2 separate regions of the Homo sapiens genome follow, and region 2 is linked to region 1. The links come from fine-mapping of genetic effects on gene expression. A gene starts in region 1. The other region holds a variant in brackets. All regions are shown on one strand. Distances are from middle to middle.

Region 1 (5,345 bases):
GGGGTTTCCCAGTCAGTGGCATGGGGGTGTGAGCTGATTGTCAGCTTGAGCTGGTGCTCAGCTGACACCACACAGCAGTGCTGGGAGAATGAGGGCGCGGACAAGAAGCACAGTCCTTTCCTGGTGGACAGCTGGGCCTGGGGCCTCGTGGCTCATCTGGGAAGCTTGAGGGCCATCCCTCTGAGACGCCCCCAGCGCTCTCCCATTGTAGGGAGGGTACAGGCCTAGCTCAGCCCTCACCCTAGGTGTCAGCAAGTGTGCCCCCTGCTTCCTCCTCATTTCTCAGCCCCCCCCAGACCCCAGCTCATGGGGGGCACATTCTTATTTCTCTTTCTTACTCAGTGTGTTTGTGAGGGGATCCTAGCTGCACAGTTGCTGCCGCCCCTCTAGTGCAGTGCTGCCGCCTCGCTCTCTGGCAGTGGGTGGGGTCAGTGCCTGGTGAAGCCTCAGGGAAGAGTGAGGAGGCAGTTTGTCCTCAGTGCTTCTCAGGTGAAGTGTCTAGGTGCCAGGTGACTTGTCTCTGAGAGCCACATGATCTCTCTGCTGGTTTGGAGGGGCGGGCAAACTAGACTGGCCAGAGCCAGAAGCAGACAGTGTTCCCTGCACATGGCCCCAGCCCTGCAGGTCGGTAAGTGGCAGTGTCCCTGTATCCAGAGGAGGACTTGGCCCCCCATAAGCAGGCCACATGCACAGCCTGTAACAACTGACTGCCCCAGTGCCCACTGGGAAGCTCTGGGGGCCCCACCTGGCGTTCCATCTCAGCCCAGCTACCGAGGCTTCACCTCTCCATGCCTTGCTGCATTCTAAAAGTGCATGGGGTGTGGGCTGAGCCACTCCACATCTGCCCATGTGCACCTCCTCCACTGTCATTCTCCTGGAGGCCCTGTGTCCTGACCTTCCACTCCACTTTCACCTAGAGGCCGGACTGCACTCTGTCAAGCGGGTGCTCACGTGCTTTTGCCTCCTTGCAGGTGGACAAACTGGATGCCTTGGAGAGTCTGCGCAAGCAAGAGGAGCATGTGACAGAGCCTGCCCCTCTCGTGTTTGGTAGGTGGCACCTGTAGCCCCCAACCCCCTGGGGAGGGAGCAGGGAGGGAGTCAAAGTCCCACTGCCCTTACCTGGCTGGGCTTTGGATGGGGATGGGAATAGATGGGTGGGGGCTGGAAGGATCCCAGTGGCTACTGGGTGTGGAGAAGTGTACGCCCAGGAATGTTGGCACGGCCGCTGTCCTCCCTGCTGTAAGGATGCCTGCCTTCTGATAGGGGTGCCTGCCTAGCTGTGAACTACTGCTGTGTCCTGCTGGGCCTGGCCCCTGGACAGCAAGGCTGCTGCTGGTGTGTGCTGGGAGGGGCTTTGCACCTGAGAACCTGCCCAGGGCAGCCTGGCTGTCGAGCAGACTGGAGAGGCTGTGGGGTGCTTGGACACTGTGGGGCAAACACAGGCCTGAGGGTGTGGTGTGAGTGTGCAGCACGCCGGCGGGTCTCCAGCGTCCGGCTGAGTGTGTCCTTCCACCATTAATGTCATTCTGGTTTTTTTAGATTTTGATGGGCATGAATGAGACCCAGCTGATTGCACTAAGTAAGTGTCCCATTTGGAGACTAGCTTATCCTCTAGCCAGGCCAGGTTCTCTGGCTGACCCCACGCTCCTTGCCTCTGGATGCCTGCTCTCTTGGGGCCTCAGCGTCTGGGTGGTAAGGGCTGGTCCTATAGACCCTGCTCCCTGGGCCCCGGGCTACTCAGGGGCAGCCAGGAGAGGACCCCCATGGGCAGGAAGAGCTCTGCTCATTGTGGGCTTCCCCCTCTGCAGGCCCTGCCGTGGGCCCAGCCCCTGCCAGCTTCCCCTATGGATATGCCTCTGCTCCCAACTTCGCCAGCCTCCAATGTACAACTTCCGCGTGTAGTGGGCGTTGTCACCACCCACCCTACCTGCAGAGTTACTAACTTCTCCAAGGAGCATGTCACTCCAGCAGCACAGGGGACGCAATGGGAGGCAGGGACACCTGGACAATATTTATTTTTGCTGAAACCCAATGACGGCAACCTCTGAGCCATCCCAGAGCCTGGGGAGGCCAGGGTAGAGGCTGACGGCGCAAGACCAGCTTTAGCCGACAACAGAGACTGGACTGTGGGCCCTCCTGCTGGAGCCAGGCCTTCCTCCTGGGCGCCTCCGACTGGCTGGAGCTGCCCCCTCCAGGCCAGTTTGAAGACTACATGAACACGTCTTGTTTGGAGGTACCGGACCTCATAAAAGGACTCTCAGCCTCTTGGCAATCATAAATATTAAAGTCGGTTTATCCAGGCAAAGGTGCTCTGCTTGGTGCTGGTATGGGTAGGAGGGACGGGCCAGTTTCCTAGGCCCCGCAGTCCATTAAAGATTTGCTGGGTCCTCTTTGGGGTGTGGGACCTCCGTTGCCCAGACAAGCTGCCTAGGAGAATACAGCCGCTTGCATTTGTGGTCTTTCCTGACCTTGTTCGCTGAGCGCAGAAACTACAACCGGGAAAGGTGTGGGTGGGAACCGGCAGGTGAGGCCCGGCCCGTGGCTGCTGCGGGAGGGGGGCCCGGCGGCGTAGCCCCTTCTCACCGGCCTCCCGCCTCCCGCCTCCAGGTTTGAAACGTTAGAGTTCCTCTGGGACTGGGCTAGCCCCACGTGTTTTCGGGGAGGGTGTGCCCCTGGCCTCCGGGATCCCTGGGGATCCCGCCGCTCTCGACAGTCGCGCAGACCCGAGGCCCGCTATCCCGCGGCGCGGCACACAGTGCACCTTGACCCACTGCTCGGAGCTGGGCCACGGCTCCGCCTCCCGCAGCCCCGCCCCCGTCCCGCCGCTCGCGGTCGCCCAGGGACTCGGCCTCGGCCATTGGCTGCGCTTTGGCCCCGCCCCTACGCCTGCCTCGGCGCGCCCCGCCCAGGCCTCAGTTTCCCGGCCCGCACGGGGCGGGCTGGGGGCGGGGCCTGGCTCGGACCACGCGGGGCGGGACCTGGAGCTGACGCGGCCGCCCCGCCCCTGGGACCATAACCGGCCGCCGCCGCCACCGCGGACCGAGCGCGGAGTTCTGGAGTCTCGGACCCGAAGCCGCCACAGGGCGCCCCGCCTCCCGCCCGCCATGCCCGCGCCCCGCGCCCCGCGCGCTCTGGCGGCCGCCGCGCCCGCGTCCGGGAAGGCCAAGCTGACGCACCCGGGGAAGGCGATCCTGGCAGGTGGGCCCCTCCGGGACGCGGACCCCTCTCCCGCCGCGCTTCTGGGTGGGCCCGGGACGCTGAGGCCCCGCCCCACTTCCGGGTTGGGCCGTGGGCTGGGGAGTCGTGGAGGCGCGGTCCTGGTCCCCACCCGGCGCGCTGGGACTCGCCCGCCTCCCGTCTGTCACCCCCTGCGCCTCGCCGGGACAACGGGGTGAGGGCATGGGGGCGTGGGGCCCCAGCCTATGTTCCCCGCGGCACTGGCGCGGCGGCCGCGCCGACCGAAGTCCGGGACGGGGGAGGGGCCCGAGCGCCAGCGGCCGGGCGGGAGTCTCAGGAGCGGGTTCCCGGTCCCTGCAGGCGGCCTGGCGGGTGGCATCGAGATCTGCATCACCTTCCCCACCGAGTACGTGAAGACGCAGCTGCAGCTGGACGAGCGCTCGCACCCGCCGCGGTACCGGGGCATCGGTGAGGAGGGGGAGGCCGCGGCGCCGCGGGGGGCGGGTACCCAGGGCGGCGGCACCGAGGGCCGTGGGGTCCTGACCGCCCCCTCCCCCAGGGGACTGCGTGCGGCAGACGGTTCGCAGCCATGGCGTCCTGGGCCTGTACCGCGGCCTTAGCTCCCTGCTCTACGGTTCCATCCCCAAGGCGGCCGTCAGGTGAGGCCCGGCCGGTGGCTGCTGCGGGAGGGGGGCTCGGCCGCGGCAGCCCCTCTCACCCGCCTCCCGCCTCCAGGTTTGGAATGTTCGAGTTCCTCAGCAACCACATGCGGGATGCCCAGGGACGGCTGGACAGCACGCGTGGGCTGCTGTGCGGCCTGGGCGCTGGCGTGGCCGAGGCCGTGGTGGTCGTGTGCCCCATGGAGACCATCAAGGTGGGGAAGGTCCTGGCGAGGACCCCGGACACGCAGGGAGTACGGAGACGGGCGGCCCCGCTGGCCCGGTGCTCCCGGGGCAACCGGCAAGCTGGGGAGGGTCTCCTGGACGCCAGGGAAGGCCGGCGGGGTGACCGCGGGGCCCTGGGGCAGGACGCCTGCCACGAAGGGCCACCCGTGGAGGCTGAGTCTATGCTAAAGGCAGCCTTAAAGTCTTTAAAAAATACTTTTATAAAGCAGAAAACAAAATGACACCTTCACTGCCAAAACTGGAAAAGAGCAGCAAACATAAAGGGAGAGGCTGCTCACAGGGCTGCCCTGTGTCCCAGAGCATGGTCCGTGTGGGCTGCCCTGTGTCCCGGGGCATGGTCCGTGTGGGCAGCCCAGGGCGGCCTTGGCTGCACTGCTTCCTGGGGAAGAGTTCCCAGTTCCCTCCACCCTGGATGGGCCCTGGGCCTGCCAGCTAGCCAGGACCCACCCAGGTGGCAGCCGAGAACCTGCGCCTTTGCTTCTCTCTCTCAGGTGAAGTTCATCCACGACCAGACCTCCCCAAACCCCAAGTACAGAGGATTCTTCCACGGGGTTAGGGAGATTGTGCGGGAACAAGGTGAGCCACTCGACCTTCCTGATAGGGCTCAGGGACCTGGGCCAGGGTGGGAAGGGCCTGCACCTCCCATCCTGCCTTGGGCTTTGTGCAACACCCACCCCCCACACACACCAATTCCCAACCGGGGCCTGAGAGGCTGCAGGGTAACCCCGTGCCTGCCTTCCCGCAGGGCTGAAGGGGACGTACCAGGGCCTCACAGCCACTGTCCTGAAGCAGGGCTCGAACCAGGCCATCCGCTTCTTCGTCATGACCTCCCTGCGCAACTGGTACCGAGGTGTGTCTGCATCACAGGGCCCCATCTCTGCACATGGCCAGCTCCTCTCCTCTCCTTGGGGCCACCCCTGGGTGGCGGGCACCCACCTTTTGAAGTGCTGATCCAGGCCCCTCCCGGCACCCTCTGACCCACCTCACCCCTCCTATATCCAGGGGACAACCCCAACAAGCCCATGAACCCTCTGATCACTGGGGTCTTCGGAGCTATTGCAGGCGCAGCCAGTGTCTTTGGAAACACTCCTCTGGATGTGATTAAGACCCGGATGCAGGTGGTGGGGCCGGGAAGGGGAGGGGAAGGGGGGACCAGGCCAGAGCTAGCTGCTGAGCCCCTGCCTGCTGATGTCCCCCATAGGGCCTGGAGGCGCACAAATACCGGAACACGTGGGACTGCGGCTTGCAGATCCTGAAGAAGGA
Region 2 (5,372 bases), 34 kb before region 1:
TGTGTTTCGGCATGGACCAGCACTATAGAGGTGGGAGCGCGTGCTTCTTTTGCATGGGCAGGCACCATAGAGGTAAGAGTGCGTGCTTCCGCATGGGCCAGCCACCTGGGGTTCCTCTCCACTTCAAAATTCACCATCAGAGATTCTGTGTCAGATTTTAATCAACTCACATCATAAGTGCAGCTGTAAAGATTTAGTTATGAGATTTATTTTGTAGGCCAGAAAGGCTATCAAGGGCTGTAGTATTATAGAGAGGAATTTGTGTGTGTGTTTTTAAACTTGGAGATGCTATATGGTAATGGCATATGGAATGTGAAATTATATTTAATGGAATCATAAACCCTGACTAATGACAGGATGCCAGGATTAAGGTGCCTGAGGTGGCTACGATATTCTGTCTTGCTGTCTGATCAACCTCCTTTGATAGTTGTTAGTTTGTGTGTACTTCCAGGCACTTACAGGTGGCTGTAGCTCTGCTGTCTTCTTAAACACTTGCTTCTCAAACATGCAGGTAACCTCAAGTTCGTGCTCTTCTTTCATTGATGATTTCACCAGACAGTTTTATGCGTAGGTAAAAATAGCCTTGGCTGGGCGTAGTGGCTCACGCCTGTAATCCCAGCACTTTGGGAGGCCAGGAGTTTGAGACCAGCCTAGCCAGCATGGGTGAAACCCTGTCTCTACTAAAAATAAAAATTCAGCCAGGCATGATGGCAGGTGCCTGTAATCCCAGCTACTCGGGAGGCTGAGGCGGGAGAATCGCTTGAGTCTGGGAGGTGGAGGTTGCAGTGAGCCGAGATGGCACCACTATACTCTAGCCTGGGTGACAGAGCGAGACTCCATCTCAAAAAAAAAAAAAAAAGCAAAATATATTATTTTTAGAGTATATACTTGGAAGAATATACTTATGACCTAATAAATTCTTAAGCCAGTCACAGAAACCAGAAACCATAAATAAACCTTTAGTGAAAAACCAATAAGACTGTATTAAACTTAAGCACTTTATCGTAAAGAAGATGGACAAATGAGAAGCTACAAATGCGGGGAAGATATTTGCAACACAACCAACAAAAAATTAGTAGGGAAAAGTTGTAATAAAAGACAAACACAAGCAACCCAATGAGAAACCAAGCAGAGAGCTTGAGCACACCCTCCGGTGAGAGGAAGGGCAGCTTGTGAATTCAGCCTCATCAGCCACCAAGGAGGCACAGAGTGAGGCCACAGTGCATCATCCGATGCTTTGTTACTCCTGCCAGAGCAGCAGGAACCCCACTCTCCTAATCAGTGCTGATGAGGATGTTGAACAGCTGGACCTCTGACGTGCCCCTGCTGGGAATGTGCGTTACATTTGGAAACAGTTTGGTGAAAAAAGATGCACACAGCCAGCAATTTCCTCTCTTCCTTATGAGCCCTAAAGGAACTCAGCTTATTTGTATGAGGAGATGTGCAGGGATACTCAAGACAAAGCTCTAAGAGCGATCCAGATAACCATCAATAAGTAGGCTGTAGTACAGTCATACAGTGGAATACCAGATAGCAGTAGAAATGAACACTGTACATGGATGACCCTTAGCACCCAACTTTAAAATTCTTTTTTATAAAACCACCATACAGTAAAAATGACCTTCTGGAAGGGGATGGGGAATGCAGTGCTAGGAATTTTAACACAAGTGTAGATCTGTAGAATCACCACAGTCGGGATACAAACAATTCCATCACCCTTTAACATTCCCTTGTGCTAGCTACCGTGTATATTATACATTCCCCCAAACCTCAACCCCCAACCCTGGCTACCACCCCGCCACACTAGTTTTGCATTTTCAAGAATGTCATGCAAATGGAGTCACGTGGTATAGACTCCTCTGTGACAGGCTTCTTTCACCCAGCGTGATGATGCCTTTGAGATTCATCCAACTTGGTGAGTGCATCGCATCAGCCTTACATTCTTTTTTGTCACTGAATGATATTCTGTTGTACGAATGTACCACAGGATCTCTTCACCCATCAAAGTACGTTTGGGTGGTTTTCAGTTTGAGGTTATTATGAATACATCTGCTGTGAACATTTGTGTCCAGATTTTTGTTTAAACATACCCAATCACATGGTATATGTACTGTTTAAGAAACCGCCTCACTATTGTTTTCCAGAATGGCTGTGTCATTTTGCATTCCCACCAGCAATATGTGAGAGTTCCAGTCACTCTTCATCTTTAGCAGCACTTGGTATATTGGTATTTTTTTATCTTAGCCAGTCTCATAAATGTATAGCAGTGTGCCATTGTGGTTTCAATTTGCATTGCCCTAGTGGCTAATGATGATGAACAACTTTTTATGTGCTCAGTTACCATCCGTAGATCCTCTTTGGTGAAGTGTCTCTTGAAATCTGTTGCCTGTGTTTTAATTGGGTTGTTTGGTTTTTTGTTGAGTTTTCAGAGTTCTTTGTATATTCTGGATACAAGTCCTTTGTTGGATATGTGATTTCCATATATTTTCTCATTCTGTAGATTTTCTTTTATTTTCTTAATAGTGTCATTAACAGAACAAAAGTTATAATTTTGATAAAGTCCAATTCATAAACTTTTCTTTTATGGACTGTGCTTTGGTGTTAAAACAAGAACTCTGTTAATACTCCCAGGTCACAGAGATTTTCTGTTATTTCCTTCTAAAAGTTTCATTCTTTTTCATTTTATATTTAGATTCATTATCCAATAAAGTGTGAAGTTTAGGGTGAGGTTCAGCTTTTTGCATATGAATGTCCAGTTTATTCCAGCATTATTTGTTAAAAATACTCTTTCTCCATGGAATTGCTCTTGCATCTCTGTCAAAAATCAATTGGCCAGATAGTGTAATTCTTCCACCTTTGTTCTTTCTTTCTTTCTTT[TCTTTCTTTCTTTC/C]TTTTTTCTTTCTCTTTCTTTCTTTCTCTTTCTTTCCTTCCTTCCTTCCTTTCTTTCTTTCTTTCTCTTTCTTTCTTTCTTTCTCTTTCTTTCAATAGGGTCTCCCTCTGTCACCCAGGCTGGAGTGCTGTGGCATGAACACGGCTCACTGCAGCCCCAACCTCCTAGGCTGAAGCAGTCCTCCCATCTCAGCCTTCTGAGTAGCTGCAGGTGTGCACCATCATGCCTGGCTAGTTGTTTTTTTTTTTTTTTTTGGTAGAGACAGGGTCTTGCCATATTGCCCAGGCTAGTCTCAAACCCTGAGGTTCAAGCACTCCTCCCACCTTGGCCTCCCAAAGTGCTGGGATTACAGGTGTCAGCCACTATACCTGGGCTCAACTTTATTCTTTTTCAAAATTGTTTTAGCTATTGTAGTTCCTTTGCCTATCTATATAAATTTCAGAATTAGCTTGTCTATATGTACAAGAAAATCTGCTGGAACTGGAACTGCATGAAATCTATGGACCAATTTAGGGAGAATTGATATCTTTACTATGTTGATTCTATGAAAGTGATATGTCTCTCCATTTATTTAGATCTTTGATTTCTTTCATCAGCAGTTTATAGTTTTTGGCATATAGGTCATATGTAGATTTTATTAGATTTATACTTATTTCATATTTTTGGAAGTATTTTAAATAGATTTTTTGTTTACAGTTGTTCATTGAAAAACATTGTCAGTATATAGAAATACAATTGATTTTTGTATGTTGACCTTGTATTCTACAACCTTGCTAAACTCATTTATTGGATTTTTTTTTTTTTGTAGATTTCTTCAGTTTTTTTTAATCAATCATGTTGGCTGCAAATTGGGACAGTTTTGTTTTTGTTTTTTTTTTTTTTTTTGAGATGCAATCTTGCTCTGTCGCCCAGGCTGGAGTGCAGTGGCGCAATCTCAGCTCACTGCAACCTCTGCCTCCTGGGTTCGTGCCATTCTCCTGCTTCAGCCTCCCCAGTAGCTGGGACTACAGGCGCCTGCCACCACGCCCAGCTAATTTTTTATATTTTTAGTAGAGACGGGCTTTACCGTGTTAGCCAGGATGGTCTTGATATCCTGACCTTGTGATCCACCCGCCTCAGCCTCCCAAAGTGCTGGGATTACAGGCGTGAGACACCGGGGACAGTTTTATTTCTTCCTAATCTAGTGCTGCCTGTGCTTTCTTTGCGATTCATTATAGAAAAGAAACTTTTTGTTTCTTTTGTTGCCTAAATGCCTTAACCAGAACCTCCAGCACAAATAGAAGTGTGGAGAGTGGACATCCCTGCCTTGTTCCTGATCCTCGGGGAAAGTGTCCAGACTCTGTTACTTATGATGTTAACAGTGGGCTTTTTGTAGATGTACTTTCTCAGATTGAGGAAGTTTCCTTCTATTTCTAGTTGAGAGTTTTTCTCATTAATAGGTGTTAGATTTTGTCAGATGCTTTTTCTGATCATTTGATAAAGATGTAGTATTTCTTTTTTAGATTATTGATATGTGGTGTGTTACACTGATTTTTTTTCCACATTTTTGAATTGTATAAAGTTTTGCAAGAATGCATCTATTATAATTAAAGCAAAGGAAAGTTCAAGAAATGCAAAGTGACCTGGTGTGGTGGCTCACACCTGTAATCCCAGCACTTTGTGGGGGCAAGGTGGGAGGATCACTTGAGGCCAGGAGTTTGAGACCAGCTGGGCAACATAGCAAGACCCCGTCTCAAAATTTTTAAAAAGTTAAAAAAAAATGCAAAGCTGCCTATATTGCTTAGAAATACAGTAGATGTGATAAAGCTATAATGAATCACAAAGAAAGCACAGGTAGGAAAATAGGTACCTCTACAGCAGGATCCAGAGGCTGGGCTCTAAAAAGCCACAGCAGCCCTCCCAGTGGTTTGATTGGCACATTCTGATTCTCTTACCTGTGCTTTCCCAAGACTTTGCTATACTGTTTCTTTTTAGATCCCAAATACTTCACAAATACTCTGTTGTATTTACTTAGCAGTTATGTGTGTGTATATTAATTACTTTTTTAAAAAAACTGGGGGTCTGGGGATGCCTGACCTGCCAAAAAATGGTTTGTGCAGCCTTCGTTCCTGGGATGCCGTGCTGACCACCCTCTCTCCTCAGGAATCTACAGAATCTGTTGATCCTGACTGCCATCAAGGCAGACCGCACACGGGTCATGGAGTACATCAGCCGCCTGGACAACTATGACGCACTGGACATCGCGAGCATCGCTGTCAGCAGCGCACTGTATGAGGAGGCCTTCACCGTTTTCCACAAGTTTGATATGAATGCCTCAGCAATCCAGGTGGGCTGCTGAGTGTAAGCATGTCGGACCTAGCACCTTCTGCCACATCATGAGTGCGCCCTGCAAGCCCTTGTCCTCTCCAAGGGTGTCAGACCCTCTGGTTGTCCAGTGCATCTCTTCGTGCTCTTCTCTGTTCCTCACCAGCAACCCATCTTC

The links. PIP is the estimated chance that this variant, and not a neighbour inherited with it, causes the effect. A credible set is the group of variants that fine-mapping cannot tell apart.
Region 2: its variant is the best candidate, but not a certain one, in a credible set for the expression of SLC25A1 in whole blood (INTERVAL, PIP 0.66).

The regions. Positions count from the first base shown.
Region 1 is chr22:19,176,433-19,181,777 of GRCh38, reverse strand. It overlaps SLC25A1 (solute carrier family 25 member 1), which reads left to right and starts at 3,042. Exons shown (of 9, transcript NM_005984.5): 1 at 3,042-3,198; 2 at 3,538-3,645; 3 at 3,737-3,836; 4 at 3,913-4,051; 5 at 4,574-4,658; 6 at 4,828-4,932; 7 at 5,085-5,200; 8 at 5,284-5,345. The coding sequence starts at 3,105. It overlaps CLTCL1 (clathrin heavy chain like 1), which reads left to right. Exons shown (of 33, transcript NM_007098.4): 31 at 972-1,047; 32 at 1,540-1,579; 33 at 1,809-2,305. The coding sequence ends at 1,559. RefSeq lists silencers at 2,446-2,545, 2,746-3,825 and an enhancer at 2,997-3,744.
Region 2 is chr22:19,210,170-19,215,541 of GRCh38, reverse strand. It overlaps CLTCL1 (clathrin heavy chain like 1), which reads left to right. Exons shown (of 33, transcript NM_007098.4): 20 at 5,033-5,216. Among named protein-coding and RNA genes, the nearest start is that of SLC25A1, 34 kb to the right of the region's middle. The variant TCTTTCTTTCTTTC/C (reference allele first, on the strand shown) is at 2,878.